Regions from separate parts of the Homo sapiens genome. Here region 1 is linked to region 2. The links come from fine-mapping of genetic effects on plasma protein levels. A gene starts in region 2. The other region holds a variant in brackets. All regions are shown on one strand. Distances are from middle to middle.

Region 1 (9,428 bases), 180 kb after region 2:
CGGCCTCCCAAAGTGCTGGGATTACAGGCGTGAGCCACTGCACTGGCCCAGATTGTCAGAGCTTTCTTTCAGAGGCTGGAGTGTGAGAGGGAAGAAGTGGTGTTTGAGGGAAGAGTTGGATCTCAAGTGGAATTTCCCAACTCTGACTCCTTATGCTTTTCTTGGTTAGGTACACCTATGGAAAGCCCATGCTAGGGGCAGTGCAGGTATCTGTGTGTCAGAAGGCAAATACTTACTGGTATCGAGAGGTGGAACGGGAACAGCTTCCTGACAAATGCAGGAACCTCTCTGGACAGGTGAGTAAATGACAGGTTAAAAAGGAACCTATCGGCCAGGCACGGTGGCTCACGCCTGTCATCCCAGCACTTTGGGAGGCCGAGATGGGCGGATCACGAGGTCAGGAGTTTGAGACCAGCCTGACCAATATGGGGAAACCCCGTCTCTATTAAAAATTCAAAAAATTGGCTGGGCATGGTGGTGTGCACCTGAAATCCCAGCTACTTGGAGGCTGAGACAGGAGAATCACTTGAACCCGGGAGGCGGAGGTTGCAATGAGCCGAGATGGTGCCACTGCACTCCAGCGTGGGTGACAGAGCAACACTCAGTCCCCCTCCCCCACCGAAAAAAAAAAAAAAAAAAGAACGTATCCACATGTCCTAAAGCGTAAGGAAGCAACAATCTAGAAAAGAGCTAAACAGCCCAAAGTAGAAAGCATTTCCCAGAATTATCATCCCAGTTCCAAAGAACAAAGCAGGGATCTTTATCCTAAACAGGGAGTGTTTTAGAGTCTGCCTTGGAACCAAGAAATTGACCTAAACCCCAGTAAGGTACAATTTTCCAGTTTTGAAGGCATTTCTTTTTCCCTTTCCCAAATCTTGGAGCTTCAAAGTCATTTCATGATTATCTATGTGCAAGTGTATACTTCATGTTGTAGGAGAGTTTTTCTATATTAGAAACTGAAGTGTGGAGATGAGAAATTATTTCCTTCTACAGAACATTATAAAATGGATGTAGAGATTAGATTCCTCATCTGCTCTCTATCTCTGTCTCTGATCACCTCACTAGACTGACAAAACAGGATGTTTCTCAGCACCTGTGGACATGGCCACCTTTGACCTCATTGGATATGCGTACAGCCATCAAATCAATATTGTGGCTACTGTTGTGGAGGAAGGGACAGGTAAGTAGGGTGCTCCTTGGCTCATTAAGAAAAGAGAAAGAAAAAGGGCTGGTCCCAGGGACAGATTTACTCCAAGTATACAAGACCTACCCTCTTGAGTGTTTGGATGGTACCTTGTTCCTAGTTCATAGTCAAGGGGAAATACCAGATCCCATCTTGCCATCTATAAGAAATACTACGGGCCGGGCATGGTGGCTCACGCCTGTAATGCCAGCACTTTGGGAGGCCGAGACGGGCAGATCACGAGGTCAGGAGATCGAGACCATCCTGGCTAACACGGTGAAACCCTGTCTCTACTAAAAATACAAAAAATTAGCCGGGCATGGTGACGGGGGCGCCTGTAGTCCCAGCTACTCGGGGAGGCTGAGGCAGGAGAATGGCGTGAACCCAGGAGGTGGAGCTTGCAGTGAGCCGAGATCGTGCCACTGCACTCCAGCCTGGGCAACAGAGCGAGACTCCATCTTAAAAAAAAAAAAAAAAAAAAAAGAAGAAATACTACATACTTCTCCAAAAGATTGGGGAGGTGAGGTTGGTTTGGATCTTTGGCCAGAAATACATTCAACTTCATCCCTCTGCCACCATTCTCTCAGAGACTTGACATTAAACGTGAAGATGAGAATATCAGGTGCCTAGATCTTTATACATCTGGTTTCCCTCTGCAGGTGTGGAGGCCAATGCCACTCAGAATATCTACATTTCTCCACAAATGGGATCAATGACCTTTGAAGACACCAGCAATTTTTACCATCCAAATTTCCCCTTCAGTGGGAAGGTATGTTAAAACTTTTCTCTGCATAGACAAAAAAATGCATAACCATCTACTTTGCCTCCTTCCTGCAGCCATAGCCACATAGCTAACTTAGTGCTGTTCCAAGTACTTTATGTGTATTCATTTTAATCTTTAGAATAATGCAATGAGGCAGGCACTGTATTGGCCCCATTTTATGGATACTGAGACAGGCAACAGAGGCTAAGTGATTTTTCCAAGGTGATCACAAATAGATGGGAACTATGACCAAATCCAGGAAGCCTGCCTCCCGGGTATACACTCTCCACTCCCTGTACTCTGCTGCCCCAATCCCATAGAAGAAGTGCCTTGAATATTAATGACACCTTAGGGGTCTTTCTAATGCCAGGGGCTGATCTTCTAATGTCTAAATCTTCATATTTAAGAGCTGCAGGGTTTCTAGAGAAATCATCCAGCCTGGTCTCCTGCATCTAGGCAAGGTTAATATGAAACTTTCCTTGACAGCCATGTATAGCTCTGTAAGCAATTTTGTTTTTCTTTCTGTTTTTGTTTTGTTTTGTTTTGTTTTGAGACAGTCTCGCTCTTGTTGCCCAGCCTGAAGTGCAATGGCGCGATCTCTGTTCACCGCAACCTCCACCTCCCAGGTTCAAGCGATTCTCCTGTCTCAGCCTCCTGAGTAGCTGGGATTACAGACATGTGTCCCCATGCCTGGCTAATTTTGTATTTTTAGTAGAGATGGGGTTTCTCCATGTTGGTCAGGCTGGTCTTGAACTCCCGACCTCAGGTGATCCGTCCACCTGGGCCTCCCAAAGTGCTGGGATTACAGGAGTGAGCCACTGTGCCTGACTAGCAATTTTCTTTAGAGATTTTAAAATTTCCGGCAGGGCGTGGTGGCTCACGTCTGCAGTCCTAGCACTTTGGGAGGCTGAGGTGGGCAGATCACTTGAGGCCAAGAGTTCGAGACCAGCCTGGCCAACATGGCGAAAACTTGTCTCTGCTAAAAATACAAAAATTAGCCAGGCATGGTGGCGCATGCCTATAATCCCAGCTACTCGGGAGTCTGAGGCACGAGAATGGCTTGAACACAGGAGGCAGGGGGTGCAGTGAGCTAAGATCATGCCACTGCACTCCAGCCTGGGCGATAGAGCGAGACTGTCTCAAAAAAAAAAAAAAAAGATAAATACATAATTAAATTTTCTTTGCTAGTGTTTTCTTTCTGATATCTAACTGAATTTCTCTCTTGTTCAGCTTATCTTTCTTTACTTCTTGTACAGCTGGTCCACACAATAATATTGCACACATAGAGATGCATTTATTCCTCAGTTATCATTTCTCTAGACCAAGGGTGGGTGCAAATTATTTTTAGAGCCTAAGGATTACACAGTTTGGGAGGGTAGGGGATTCGCTTTAAGAAAAAGAAAGCAAAATAGGCTGGGCACAATGGCTCATGCCTGTAATCTCAGCACTTTGGGAGGCTGAGGCGGGCGAATCACGAGGTCAGGAGTTCGAAACCAGCCTGACCAACATGGTGAAAACCCGTCCCTGCTAAAAATACAAAAATTAGCCAGGTATGGTGGCACGGGCCTATAGTCCCACTACTTGGGAGGCTGAGGCAGGAGAATCGCTTGAACCCAGGAGGTAGAGGTTGCAGTGAGCTGAGCTCGTCCCACTGCACTCCAGCCTGGGCGACAGACTGAGACTCCATCTCAAAAAAAAAAAGAAAGAAAGGAAGGAAGAAAGGAAGGAAAGAAGGAAGGAAGGAAGGAAAGAAGGAAGGAAAGAAGGAAGGAAGGAAGGAAGGAAGGAAGGAAGGACGGAAGGAAGGAAGGAAGGAAGGAAAGAAAAAAGAAAGCAAAACAACGTGCAGAACCTTTGAAGGAGCCTGTGCATATGAAGAGCCCTGAAGCTTCATTAGCCACCGGGCAAATCTAGCTCTGCTCTGGGCTGTTACTTCTGTTTGTTTTTCGGTTCCTCACAGATCCTAGTTCAAAAGCTTGAATCACATTTATCTTTTTCAGGACTCTTTCCTGAAATGTATTCTTAGAAATTCTGTTATTACTTTTAGTGCCAAAAACCACAATTAGTTTGCACCAACCTAATATTTCACTTTACCTCATACTCAAGCTTACTCCAAACCTAATTCTAATCCGTAATGATCTTTGTCCTTCAGATAAGAGTTAGGGGCCATGATGACTCCTTCCTCAAGAACCATCTAGTGTTTCTGGTGATTTATGGCACAAATGGAACCTTCAACCAGACCCTGGTTACTGATAACAATGGCCTAGCTCCCTTTACCTTGGAGACATCCGGTTGGAATGGGACAGACGTTTCTCTGGAGGTAAGCATGGACGGAGGACCAGCTTCCTAGAAAGGAAGGCTTCCCTGAAGGAAAACTTCAGAATTTTCCTGTTTCCTATTCTCCCCTCTGCTTGGAATTACATCTTTCTCACTCACAAGTCCTGCTCTCCCGTTGACAAAAAGTTTTCCTTAGATGCTTTCTGTTTTTAATATCAATCAAATAAATAGTCCTTACTTGGATGAAAACTACTATTTCTACTAATACATCTTTTAACTTACCCCCATCTCTATCTGATCCTATCTATATATGAAGTTAGAGCAGGGAGGAATAGGTGACTCAGAGTCTTTTTCTTTCTCTTTCCCCTTCCCATCCCCTCATTACTTAATAAAAACAGCAAACAAGAGAACTCTAGATTCTAGATAACTTATAAGTATCAATTATCAACTGCCACAACAATGCTTCTTATCAAACAGCTACAAACTTCAGTATCGTGCAGCAGAAAGCATTCACTGCTTGTGCATCTGGGGCATTCAGTCAGGCAGCTCTGCTGATTTCGATTTCCAGAACTGTCTGCAGATCGGCTGGCCATAAGCTGCTGCTCCGCATGCCTCTCATGCAGGAGCCAGCTAGCCCAGGTATATTCTTATGGCAGTGATGAGGTGCAAGTGCAAAAGCTGATGTTCAGGGCTTTTCCAAACCTCTGTATATTGCATATGTTTTTTTCTTTTTTTTTTTTTTGAGACAGAGTCTCACTCTGTCACCCAGGCTGGAGTGCAGTGGCGTGATCTCGGCTCACTGCAAGCTCCGCCTCCCCGGTTCACGCCATTCTCCTGCCTCAGCCTCCCCGAGTAGCTGGGACTACAGGCGCCTGCCACCACGCCCGGCTAATTTTTTGTATTTTTTAGTAGAGATGGGGTTTCACTGTGTTAGCCAGGATGGTCTCGATCTCCTGACCTCGTGATCCGCCCGCCTTGGCCTCCCAAAGTGCTGGGATTACAGGCGTGAGCCACCGCGCCCGGCCCCTGTTGCATATGTTAACACCCCTTTCCCAACAAATCGAACAGTGGGCACAGACTAGGAGGGTACTGGAAGACCACATGCTCAAGGATGCTGATCT[C/T]GGAGGGGGCGGGGTGCGTGTGAGGAATTGGAGCCATTAATGAGATCGTTCAACCTCAGGACTTAAGCAAACACATACTACTTGCCTTGTGGCTAATTTGACTATTTCTTTACTCTAGGCATGACTCAGTTACTCAGAAATAATTATTTTTCAATCTTAGTGTCTTCTGTGCCTAGTTTTCTTATCCCTGAAATATAATCTTTGATTTCTATATAATCTAAGTCACGTTCATCTATCCCAGGAATATCTGTGAAGATACATCACCCACAATTTCCTCTCATTTAGTAACTATAATTCAGCCCTTCTGTCGCTCTCCTACATACCAAAATATTGCTGTACACAGCTACGTTTATGGATTCTTTATCCATCCTTGGCTGGACCGCTAATGAAATACCCACATGCCATTCTCAGGCAGTGAAGATTTGAGAGAAAGAGCTCTATTTGAAAACCGTAACAAGTCCGTGGGGTTTCCATGGTTGGAGCACATGCTAAAATTCTCTCTCTCTCTTTTATTCTCAGGGAAAGTTTCAAATGGAAGACTTAGTATATAATCCGGAACAAGTGCCACGTTACTACCAAAATGCCTACCTGCACCTGCGACCCTTCTACAGCACAACCCGCAGCTTCCTTGGCATCCACCGGCTAAACGGCCCCTTGAAATGTGGCCAGCCCCAGGAAGTGCTGGTGGATTATTACATCGACCCGGCCGATGCAAGCCCTGACCAAGAGATCAGCTTCTCCTACTATGTGAGACCGGGAAACGGGGACGGGTGAGAGTATGCTGGGAAGGAAAGAGAATGAGAAGAGTCAGCCAGAGGGTGCACCTAGGCTATCTGAATTGCAGATGCACATCTAATTAAAAACAATTTTAAAGCCACACTAAAAAAGTAAAAGAACAGTTGACATTAATTTTAAATGTATTTTTTATTTAACCCATTATATCCAAAATATTAACATTTTAACACGAAAGCCATATAAAAAGTTTTAATAGATATTTTACATTCTTGTTTCAACGGTGTCTTTGAAACTCAGTATGTATTTTACACTTAAAGCGTATCTCAGTTTGGACTGAGCACATTTCAAGTATTCAATATTCCTTTTTTTTTCTTTTTTTTTTTTTTTGAGACACAGTCTCGCTCAGTTGCCCAGGCTGGAGTGCAGTGGTGTGTTCTTGGCTCACTGCAAGCTCCACCTCCCAGGTTCACGCCATTCTCCTGTCTCAGCCTCCCAAGTAGCTGGGACTACAGGCGCCCGCCACCACGCCCAGCTAATTTTTTTTGTATTTTTAGTAGAGACGGGGTTTCACCATGTTAACTAGGATGGTCTCGATCTCCTGACCTCGTGATCCACCTGCCTCAGTCTCCCAGAGTGCTGGGATTACAGGCATGAGCCACCGCGCCCGGCCTCAAGTATTCAATATTCCTATGTGGCTATGAGATACTGCATGGCCCAGTATAGGTGTAAGAGATGGAAAACATTGGGGGAAGAAAGAGATTCTGAGCAGGAACACAGGAAAATTGTGTGGGAAAATAAAATGAGGAATTACCTGAGAAAATAGTGCTGGCCAGGACCAAAAAAAACAAAAACAAAAACAAAACCAGCTGGGTGGTTGGGAGGGAGAGTGGGGAGGGATGGGACTCAGGATACTTTTTTTTTTTTTTTAATTTATATGAGACAGGGTTTCGCCATGTTGGCCAGGCTGGTCTTGAACTCCTGACCTCAGGTGATCTGCCCACCTTGGCCTCCCAAAGTGCTGGGACTGCAGGCATGAGCCACCGAGCCCAGCCAGGATACATTTCATTCTGTGTTCCATTGGTCAATATTATCAAATAGATGATATGGGGTTAAATTCACATCGATAGCAGCCTCATTGGGGAAATAAAATCATAACTTGGTAGCCTGAAAGCAATGTATAAGGATAAGCAGCTTTCCTGTCACCTTGGTGACAGTCAGGAAGTAGAATGGAAACCTCAGGTTTGATGGCTCGGAGCCTCTTTGTTCCGTTATCCTCCTGTCAGTCTATGAGAGACTTTCTCCCCTCTGGATCATTGCAGTAGCTTCCATGGTTTCAGTGTTGTCGTTAAGTGAAAAAAAAAAAATCATCCTAATACAACGAAAAGAGAAAAGATAGGTGGAAAATAACAAGTCCAGTGATAAAGCGGGCTCTGTCTTCAGGACCGAAGTGTGGGGAGGTGTAGGACAAAAGTGAAGTTAGGGCCGAGCCACGTGGAATGGCTAATGCTGGGCAGGCGTCCAAGGAACCGACCTTGGAGCCCTGCAGGAGCGTGGGATGAGAGCCTGCTTGCAAACAAGATCACCGAGTTCTGTTTCAAGTGAGAGTGGACGGGAAGGGGGAGTTAGAAGAGGAGATTTCTCCTCTAGAGGGTTCAATGTCAGAAGGGCTCAGGGTGGTTTAGGATGAAATTATTTCCACTGAATTTTAAATTGAGCTGTAATTAAAAAACACTTATGAGGATAGATTTTCGCTGACTTTCTGTTACAAAGATTATAAGAAAATAAAATTTGGAGATCTTCAAGAAATGGCAGACAGTTATCTATGGTGAGGAACAATTTCTATGCTGTCAGACTCCTCCCATCCACCTGCGTGGTTCTCAGCCAGACCTCCAACTGCAGGAGGAGCCACCAGGACCCGTTGGCAGCATCCTGCATTTGTCAAGCTAGTGGATGCTGGGTGAGGTATTGACCCGGACTCTGAACTGTGAAAGGAACCTCTCCTCATGAAGGGATGCAGAGATGCTCTGGAAGTTGGTCCAAGGTGAAATTACTGTAACTTCTGTGCAGTTGATTCTTTTCTTTTCTTCTTTAGTTAATAGGGAAAGGAAGTTTGGTGATGGAGGGGCAGAAACACCTGAACTCTAAGAAGAAAGGTGAGTGTACATGCTTTTCCCGGAAGCAAACAGGATATTTTTAAATTCCAGAAAACAATTCTTGGCCAGGCGCGGTGGCTCATGCCTGTAATCCCAGCACTTTGGGAGGCCGAGGTGGGCGGATCACGATGTCGGGAGATCGAGACCATCTTGGCTAACATGGTGAAACCCCGTCTCTACTAAAAATACAAAAAAAAATTAGCCGGACGTCGGGGCGGGCCCCTGTAGTCCCAGCTACTCGGGAGGCTGAGGCAGGAGAATGGCGTGAACCCGGGAGGCGGAGCTTGCAGTGAGCCGAGATCATGCCACTGCGCTCCAGCCTGGGCGACAGAGCGAGACTCCGTCTCAAAAAAAAAAAAAAATAAATAAAATAAAATAAAATAAAATAAAAAAATTCTTATCCACAGAAGTAATGGAATTGGAGCACTAACAGTTATCACAGGAGAAGAGAAAAATGAGAAGTAACTTGCACCATGGTGCCTGCACTGGCTCAGTGAAAAGTACATATGGTTAGATGCCGTTGGCAGGTGAATGTGCATTCTGATTTTCCTGTATATTCCCTCTTCTCTTTCAGGACTGAAAGCCTCCTTCTCTCTCTCACTGACCTTCACTTCGAGACTGGCCCCTGATCCTTCCCTGGTGATCTATGCCATTTTTCCCAGTGGAGGTGTTGTAGCTGACAAAATTCAGTTCTCAGTCGAGATGTGCTTTGACAATCAGGTAAAATGATAGCGGAGAAGGGTGAAGATAAAAGTTGGGCATAGAGAAAGATCTTGTGTGTGCTGCGGTTGGAAACAAGACAAGTCAGGGAAAGAAGATAGTGTTGACGTTGGATGTTGTATTATATTTATATCTTTAGTGTTTGGGGTTTGTGTTGAAATCCATCTCTCTCCTACTTTTTATTTTAAGAAGTCATGCTGGCTGAGGTGCAGTGGCTCACTCCTGTAATCCCAGTGCTTTGGGAGGCCAAGGCAGAGGGATTTCTTTAGGTCAAGGGTTCAAGACCAGCCTGGACAACATAGCAAGATCCTGTCTGTACAAAAAAATTTTTAATTAGCTGGGTGTGCAGCACTTTGGGAGGCCGAGGTGGGTGGATCACCTGATGCTAGGAGTTCAAGACCAGCCTGGTGAAACCGTGTCTCTACTAAAAATACAAAAATTAGCCAAGCATGGTGGTGGATGCCTGCAATCCCAGC
Region 2 (9,428 bases):
AGTCTCACTCTGTTGCCCAGGCTGCAGTACAGTGGTGCCATCATAGCTCCTTTGCAGCTTCGAACTCCTGGGCTCAAGCGATCCTTTCACCTCAGCCTTCTGAGTAGCTAGGACAACCAGCAAACCACCACACCTGGCTTTTTTTTTTTTTTTTTTAAGAGATAGGGTCTCAGGCTGGCAGCAGTGGCTCACACCTGTAATCCCAGCACTTTGGGAGGCCGAGGCCTGCAGATCATCTGAGGTCAGGAGTTTGCGACCAGCCTGACTAACACGGTGAAACCCTGTCTCTACTAAATACAAAAAATTAGCCAGTTGTGGTGGCGCATGCCTATAATCCAAGCTACTTAGGAGGCTGAGACAGGAGAATCACTTGTACTTGGGAGATGGAGGTTGCAGTGAGCCGAGATCGCGCAATTGTACTACAGCCTGGGTAACAAGAGCGAAACTCTGTCTCGAAAAAAAAAAAAAATAAAAGGGTCTCACTATATTGCCCAGGCTGATCTCAAACTCATGGCCTCAAGTGATCATCCCACCTCAACCTCCCAAAGTGCTTGGTATTACAGGCATGAGCCACCACACCAGGCAAGACAGTTCATCATACCTTATGATATGTCTGCGAGAAAAGCATCTAAAGTCTTAACACAGGACTGGTTCCTAATCAGCCCAGAAAAATGAATTCCGATTTTCAGTTTTGCTGGTACTAAAATCTCGGGAGGCCTTTCCCCTAGTCTGAAGTCTAGTCACATTCCTGCCCTTTTTTCCTAGATTCAGATTTAGATTCAGAAACTCGGGGATTCGGGTATTTTTACCAACAACAGAAAAAAAATTTTTGTATTTTTATCTTCTGTACCAGGACCCACTGCAAGAAAAATATACTGTACCCTGGTATATACATATGGAAAACTAAGAGAAGTTTTATTAAAGTTGTATGAAATAATACTTTACTCTTGCAAAACACATGCAATGCATCCCGGTATATTTGTTTTGGTCTATCTTAATTCATTTTAAAAATTAATACCAGTTGTGACCCACTAAATTGATTTCATGATCCCATTAATAGGTTGCCTACTGGAGCGCTCTGTCCTCTAACTCTCCTGGGATGGGAGAAATAAAGAGATAAATTATAATTATGTTGAATGCCTTGAGGCAGAATGGAGTTTTCTTCATGAAGTCGAAGGAAGTGGTCCTCTAGGGGTCACAACTTTTGGGATTTTTGTTATAGAGAATGGTGTGAGCAAAAATTACCTAAAAAGCTGAAAAACCAAAAAATACCTTTTGGGTTTTGCTCAGTTGTGCCACAATTTCACCTAGGATTGACATGACTTCTTTTTTTCTAATTTTTTTTTTTTTTTTTTAGTCAGTTCCACTCTGTTGCCCAGGCTGGAGTGCAATGGCATGATCATGGCTCACTGCAACCGCAGCCTCCTGGGTTCAAGCCATTCTCATGCCTCAGCCTCCTGAGTAGCTAGGACCACAGGCATGCGCCACCATGCCAGGCTAATTTTTTTTTTTTCTAGAGATGAGGTCTCCCTGTGCTGCCCAGTTTGGTCTCAAACTCCTGGGCTCAAGCGATCCTCCTGCCTCAGCCTCCCAAAGTGCTGGGATTATGGGTATAAGATGACTTCTTATCCTGTCTTTCATTTTTCCACTGTTACATGAATTAAGGAACGCTTTTTGTAAGGACTAGTAAGCATTTTCTGAGTAAGATAGGAGATGTGTAAAGAAAAATGAAAACAGAAATGGTCATAGAGGATGTCTTGGGAAGGTGTTTCAGTAGTTTAAAAACACACACACAAGAAGCTTTTATGAATGGGATAATAGGATTGTGGAAACTGGTGAAGTTGATCCTATTTCTCACACTTTGGCAATGCATCTCTTTGTTGTAGGAAATATTCTTTTTTTTTTTTTTTTGGCAGCGATAGATAAGCAGGAAGGATTTTTTAACTCTGTTCATCTAAATTTTCCTGATAAGAACCCCAACAGAGCCGCTATCCAAGGGTTCACCTACCTCCTCGTTGACTATTGACCCCCAGGGGTATCCAGTCTATAGCAAAGGAAGAGAAAAGAGATGTGAGTGACTGCAGCTCTATACCTCGTAACCCTTTTATGAGACAAATCAGAAAATCATGGAGAAATGGTTATACTTTATCTTTGTGACTTATTCCTATATAGCTCAATATAAAATTACTGAGACCATTAGTGCTATGAACAAAACCAATAGGAATAGAAAGACTTCAGAAAGACAAGTTCCTTCACTGCTGTGCATTTGTTTGGTAAAAAGAAAAAAAAGACAAGTTCCTGAGAACAAAGCCCTGCTGCCCTCTTACCCTCATTCCTGGCCAGGAATGAAGTCCAGCTCCACTGAGAGGCCTGGCAGCCCTTCTAGCCCCACGGCTTCCCCGCTAGCTATGCTAGTGAACAAGACAGAAGAATTATTTTTCTCAATCTGTATCGGAAGAAGGAGGGAAAAAAATAGAGTAGGACATCTTTACAGCCTAAAGTTCACTTTCTGTGGCCAGTCTTCTAGCCAGATTCTGGGAAATCTGTGAAGATCACTTTTCTCTTGTGTGTCAGTATGGCATATATTTTTTGCATGCATGTGAGTATACCTGCATGCATGATGGTAATAGTGTATGTATTCCCACTGTTCTTCTTCAAGATTTACATTTGGTCCAGTTTCTTTTTTTCTTTTTTCCTTTTTTTTTTTAATGGAGATGAGGTTAACTCATCTCACTATGTTGCCCAGGTTGGTCTCAGTGATCCTCTCCACTCAGTCTCCCAAAGTGCTAGGAGTATAGGTGTGAGCCCACCATGCCCAGCCCAGGTCCAGTTTCTTTCTAGGTAGTCCCTCCTCTATGTTTGTGTATGCATTTGTATATCAGCTTCTTTTTTGCTTTGCAATTTGTTTACTCATATGTGACCCTCTTTGGGTGGTTAATATGCATTTGTGTGTATCTTAGTTGCACCTTAGTTTCATAATTCTTGGGAGGCCTTTCCCCTAGTCTGAAGTCTAGTCACATTCCTGAACTTTTTTTCTTAACACAAAATCTGTTCTTCTAATAGGAATTCCAGAGCTCAATACCAAGCATCTCTACTGCTATTCCTCTTCGACCTCATTCCATCCCATCTCCTGCCACACACGTGTATAGCTGAGGAGCTGAGGGTTTAGGGAGCAAAGAATAAAGGACTCACCAGAGGTGATGATGAATGCAGCAAGAAACAGCAGCACCTTGGGTCCCAAGAGCGACATATCTATAGGGGTGGTGGGCATAGCAGAGAATGTGATGCTCAGAGGCACATCAGCATTTCAGTGCCAGGGAAAGATGCCTCTGAGGTCCCTGTCTCTTTGTCTTCCCAGAACTTTCTTCATTTTCCCTTATGACTCAAACCCTTTCTCTCTTTTCTTACCTTTCACCCAACATTCATTTCTCCCTCAAATCTATTCCTTGGTCACTTACCATTATTCTTGCTTTTATTATTCTCTGCTACCAAGTCAGAGGAAATTTTACATTCTACATGGTCCGTACTTGGCCCTACCCTTTGGCCTCTTTCACCCCTGATGTGGAATCTTCCTTTCTCATATGCGTGACTTTTTCATATCATCTGCTCATCTTGGCGTCTCCTTCATCAGAATTCCACGGTTATTTGGGAGGTCTGCTCAAGACTAAGTTCAGTGACATTCCCCATTGCCCCCTCCAGCCCTTTCACACACACACAGACATACACACATTCCCTCTGTCTCTTTAGGGTTTCAGGTAATCAAATAACTCACTGTCTATGGTGTTCTGCTCTTTCCACCGAGTCCTTTGGCTGCTGAATGTGTCTCTCTCCTCTTACGCTGTTCCTACTTTGGCTGGCGAATAAGATGAACAGAGCCACTCCCTGGAAAGGACTTCAGATTTGGCCTCCGCTGAAACAATGAGATGAGGGAGAGCAAGAAAGCCAGGCTAGGCGTAGAATGTGTGTTACAATGAGGCTGGAATGAGAAGGGAGATGGGAATTTGCAGTTGCTCACACCCTCATTCCAAATGTTATGACTACACTGGTGAGAGCTCTTGCTGCTCCCTGGAAGTGTTGGCCCCAGCTCATGTATTGCCTTTCTTCCATTAGCCTATTTTCCCTCCTCTCACGATCTGGTCCCAGCTCCCCTTTGTTCCTTGGGTTCTTTCTTACCGAAAAGTTCCGTCTCCTCCTTGGTGTGTTTTAATGCACATTATAGATGCTGTTTCTCTCTCTCTGGCTATCTTCTTCTTCTTTGTTTTTTGTTTTTTTTTTTTAAGACAGAGTTTTGCTCCTGTCACCCAGGCTGGAGTGCAATGATGTGATCTTGGCTCACTGCAACCTCCGCCTCCTGAGTTCAAGCAATTATCCTGCCTCAGCCTCCTTATATTCCATATTTGAATCATTCCTTCATCCTTCTTTCTCACTTTCTTTTTCAATATTCGTCTCTTCAGCACTAACAAATTTCTTTTTATTCCTGTATTTCTTTTTCATCTCTGCCTCTTTCTTGACCTACACATTTAGACTCTTCTTGTTTTTTTTCCCCTTGGAATATCCTATGTATTCTCACAACCAAGCGAACACAGATACCTTATGAGTTTTGTCCAAGAGGAAGGCTGGCTACCTTAGGGTTATAAAAAGTTGAGGAACTTTTCAGAACTCTCCAAATCATTTTCAAATGTAGAGAAGCTCTGTGAAAGGGGTGCCAGCCTTACTTTGTCTTTTGGCTTTGTTTGAGCTTAACTAAGAATCTGGGTTTCTGGGCTCTTAAGGATAAAATGCAATCAGATGCCCAAAGAAAATTGAAAGGCAAGGTTATTATGCTTGCCTCATTTTCTACCAATATTTTTCCTTAGATCATATAATGTGTAGATAACACTTTCTCTGATCCAGGATTTTTTCTTTTTTTTAAGATAGGGTCTTGCTCTGTCACCCAGGCTGGAGTACAGTGGCATGATCACAGTTCACTGCAGGCTTGACCTGGGCTCAAGTGATCCTCCTGCCTCAGCCTCCTAAGTCGCTGGGACTACAGGTGCATGCCACTATGCCAGGCGAATTTAGATGTATTTTTTTGTAGAGACAGGATTTTGCTATGTTGCTCAGCCTTGATTCAGGAATTTTAAAGGCTTTGTATTTCTTCTTATTCACAGAGACTCTAGTGGTTCAACCACTAAAACATTCCCGCTTTGGATTCAAGAGCAAACTTGAATTACAGAAACTCAAGTCTGAGGAATGGTGGACCTTGTATGCCATAGAAATATGTAAGTTTCAGGTTTCCTGTTGGCTCCCCTTTAGTCTACATTATATATCTCCCTGATGAAATAAATTAGAGAAGAGTACAGGTAGACAGAGAGCAGATAGTATTAATAAATTACATACTAGAAGAAAATAAAAGGGGGTATGATGGAAGGAAGGAAAGAAGGAAAGAAGGAAGGAAGGAGTCTAGTTGAGAGGAAAAAAGAGCAGTGGACACAGAAATAAGCAAATCGCACTTTGTAAGCACCTCTGGGACCTCCGAGGGAGCTGTAAGTGCTACATCTCTAAGATACATGGAATCTGGTCAGTCCGCAGAACAAGCTGAGTGCTACGCCCAGCTCTTCCTGATCTTCCTGCCCCAGAACTTGCTCTTCTTCCATCTGCTCCCCAGTGAAGGGGCTGAGACTAGAAAACAGATGTGATTCTAGTCTGAGGAGAGTCAGGGGAAGAAAAGGGTGTTGGGAGAAGAAACAAAAAAGCAGATGCAAAGCAGGACATAGCTAAGGCAGGACATAGAATAGAGAGCCTAGAGCAACAATCAAGTTTTCCATGAAGCTCAGACAGATGGAGACACTGAACTCAGGCCAGTCATTTGGCAGGGAGAGCAATGACCTCAATGTGCTGGCCTGGCTAGAGGCTATAGTTTAGGAGAGCCTCCCCAGGCAGTGGGAGGGGGCGTTCTCCTGGGGTTGTAGGAGGTAGTCTGGAGTTGGGGCAGTGAAAATAGGAACAGAATGTTCAGAGCAGGGCTGAAGAAGAGAACAGGCAGGGAGTAGCATCCTAGAAGGAAAGGAGAGGTAGTGAGACAGGAACTGGCAGAAGAGCAGGACAACCATATATTGTTGGGTTTTAAAGACTTTTGAGAATGCAGTTTGTTTCAAGGTTGGTTAGTTTCTTTTTTTTTTTTTTTTTTTTTTTGTGAGATAGAGTCTCGCTCTGTTGCCCAAGCTGGAGTGTAGTGGCGTGAACTTGGCTCACTGAAACCTTCGTCTTCTGGGTTCAAGTGATTTTCCTGCCCTAGTAACTGGGATTACAGGCATCCGCCACCAGGCCCGGCTAATTTTTGTATTTTTAGTAGAGAGGGGGTTTCGCCATGTTGGCCTGGCTGGTCTCGAACTCCTAACCTCAAGTGATTTGCTCCCCTCAGCCTCCCAAAGTACTGGGATTACAGGTGTGAGACACCACACCTGGCCAAGGTTGGTTAATTTTTTCATGGCAACTATGGCGGGCCCTTTATTCTACTACAGTTCCCCATTTGTTCTCAGAGCCCAGGTTTGGATCCCCAGGCTTAGAGATCCTCAGATTTGCTTTTCTCAGGGTGATTTTGTCAGCCTCTGTTGCATTGTACATTAATTAATCATTTAATGACATCAAGTCAAAATCAGCACCAATGGTCAGAAACGAGCAAATGCCATCCAGAGTTACAAGTCCATAATTTTCTGGGGTTCTTTTTGACTCACTGAGTAGCAATCCATACTTCCATCCCATATAGGCTGGATCTCCTGAGGGTAGACAACACATTCTCCAGCAATAAGAAAGCCCCTCATGGGACTGACTGGCGCGTGTAGAAGTGACTTAATGAAGGCAATCTATGTTTGAGTTACCCAGGAAAATTTTCGTTTTTATAAAATGTCTGTGAAAGATGGGCAAAGGGCAAAGAAAGAGGAGAGAGACAGAGATGCGAGATGTCAAGCTGGTTTTATTCATCTGTTTATTGGCTTGTAAAGAATACACCCATTAGCTGAAGGCCTCTGGGCAAATGTACAGAAACGTTATTACTACAGTCCCATCCAACTAAATTAAACCCAGGAGCTAAACACACACACAAAAAATTTCCCATAAAAGGAAGGAAAAGAAAGGGGGAAGGTTATATGAGGCAGGGAGGGCAGGGAGAGGGAGTGGTGTGTGTAGAGGAATGAAGCAATGAAGTAGTAACAGCCAAACACAAAAGATGGACTTAGATGCCAAAAGACATATGTCCTTAGAAAACTGAAGCTAGGGAACACTTGTTTGTCCATCAAAATCCGGCCTAGATGTCGCCTCCTGCCAGAAACCTTTCCTGGTCTCCTCTGCCTCTAAAGAGTTCATCATTCCCTCTATTAAACCAACTCTTTGTTTATTTGTATAATTATATAATCCACTTTATTAAACTCTTTTACATATCTTTAATCCTTATTAGGCTGAGGGTTTCTTTTCTTAGTTTTTTATTTTTTATAGAAATGGGGTCTCACTATGTTGCCCGGGCTGGTATCGAACTCCTGGGCTCAAGTCATCCCCCTGCCTCGGCCTCTCAAAGTGCTGGAATTATAAGCGTGAGCCACTGCCCCTAGCCTAGGCTGAGTGTTTCTTGATGGAAGAGGCTGTCTTACTCCTCTTTAGGTGACATAATGGTTAGCACATTAAAACTCAAAATTTGCAGCCTGGGCAACATGGCAAGACCTTGTCTCTACAAAAAAAAAAAAAAAAAAAAAAAAAAAAAAAAAAAATTGTTTTTTTTTTGAAACAGAGTCTCGCTCTGTCACCCAGGCCGGAGTGCAGTGGCGCAATCTCAGCTCATTGCAAGCTCTGCCTCCCAGGCTGACGCTATTCTTCTGCCTCAGCCTCTCGAGTAGCTGGGACTACAGGTGCCCACCACCATGCCTGGATAATTTTTGTATTTTTAGTAGAGACGGGGTTTCATCGTGTTAGCCAGGATGGTCTTGATCTCATGACCTCGTGATCTGCCTGCCTCCACCTCCCAAAGTGCTGGGATTACAGATGTGAGCCACCGCGCCCGGCCTTTTTTTTTTTTTTTTTTTTTGAGACAGAGTTTCACTCTGTCACGCAGGCCAGAGTGCAATGGCACAATCTCAGCTCACTGCAACCTCTGCCTCCCGAGTTCAAGCGATTCTCCTGCCTCAGCCTCCCAAGTAGCTGAGATTACAGGCACCTGCCACCACACTCAGCTAATTTTTGTACTTTTTAGCAGAGACAGGGTTTCACCATGTTGGCCAGGCTGGTCTCAAACTCCTGACCTCAGGTGATCCACCGACCTCTGCCTCCTGAAGTGTTGGGATTACAGGCATGAGCCACCACACCTGGCCAAAAAATTGTTTTTAATTAGGCATGGTGGCATATGCCTGTGGTCCCAGCTACTTAGGAGGCTAAGGCAGGAGGATTACTTGAACCCAGGAGGTCTAGGCTGCAGTGAGCTATGACTGTGTCACTACACTCCCTCCTGGGCAACACAGTGAGACCCTGTCTCAAAAAAAAAAATTATCTAAATTTGGTCAACTGGATTGAATTGAGATGAAGACTTGAAATAGTAACTTCCTATTTTTGAAATATTAACATTCAAAGACTTAGTCAAATGCAAGGGGGTAGAGGATAACGTTTTAGGGAAGTAAGCAGTTTGAGAGTATACATGGAGTTCAGCAAATGGAACAAGCAATCAATGTATTGAAGTGATATGGGGGCAATAGAACAAAAAGGAATAGGCTCCCCCAAAGCAGAAAAATTGGGCAACAGCTAGTCTTAAAGGAATTTTAGCAGTAAGACTGTAAAAGTTATTTCACGTAAAACATATATAATTTATATCTACAATAATTAGTGCTTCTGTCTCATCATTTTGCTTTGTGTAAATTTTCTGATGGCACTGGTAGTCGGTCTTACACTGTTACAGTCATACTTTCTTGACCACACAGACGTAAAATGTTTGATCCAGGTTTAAGATTCTGCTCAAGTTCCTGAACCCACAACTAAAAAGATATAAATAACTCTGATAAAACTGGCTATAGACAAACAAAACAGGACAAGTTCTAAAAATTCATTCATCCATCTTCTCATTCTACCTGCCAAAATAAAAAAGAGAGAGAGAAACTCTGGAATTTGCAAATATGGTTTAAAACAGGAAAGTTCAATGTATATAGTTATTAATAATAACTCATATAATTAGTAATTTCAGCACATCTATATAATATAGTTTTATAAATTATATGTATTAATACTAGGCAGCCTGTAAGACAGTCCCAATGATCCCCGTCTCCTGTTTTGTTTTGTTTTGTTTTTGAGATGGAGTCTCTTTCTGTTGCCCAGGCTGGAGTGCAGTGGTGCGATCTTGGCTTACTCCCAACCTCCACCTCCCAGGTTCAAGCAATTCTCATGCCTTAGCCTCCCGAGTAGCTGGGATTACA

Direction of the effects. Positions count from the first base shown, and alleles are read on the strand shown. Strength reflects both the effect of a copy and how common the allele is.
With allele C in place of T in region 1, the plasma level of the protein whose gene starts at base 3,972 in region 2 is lower (weak association).

What was found. A credible set is the group of variants that fine-mapping cannot tell apart. PIP is the chance, under the fine-mapping model, that this variant and not a neighbour inherited with it causes the effect. Protein levels are from antibody-based Olink assays in UK Biobank. Linkage for the fine-mapping came from a reference panel and not from the study's own genotypes, which makes the PIPs less certain.
Region 1: its variant is the best candidate, but not a certain one, in a credible set for the plasma level of the MFAP5 protein (UK Biobank, PIP 0.65).

What each region holds. Positions count from the first base shown.
Region 1 is chr12:8,837,271-8,846,698 of GRCh38, forward strand. A2ML1 (alpha-2-macroglobulin like 1) reads left to right here. Exons shown (of 36, transcript NM_144670.6): 8 at 170-296; 9 at 1,066-1,180; 10 at 1,843-1,952; 11 at 4,099-4,266; 12 at 5,864-6,091; 13 at 8,172-8,232; 14 at 8,807-8,952. Among named protein-coding and RNA genes, the nearest start is that of A2ML1-AS1, 11 kb to the left of the region's middle. The variant C/T (reference allele first, on the strand shown) is at 5,345.
Region 2 is chr12:8,658,855-8,668,282 of GRCh38, forward strand. It overlaps MFAP5 (microfibril associated protein 5), which reads right to left and starts at 3,972. Exons shown (of 10, transcript NM_003480.4): 1 at 3,773-3,972; 2 at 3,193-3,252; 3 at 2,009-2,044. The coding sequence starts at 3,250.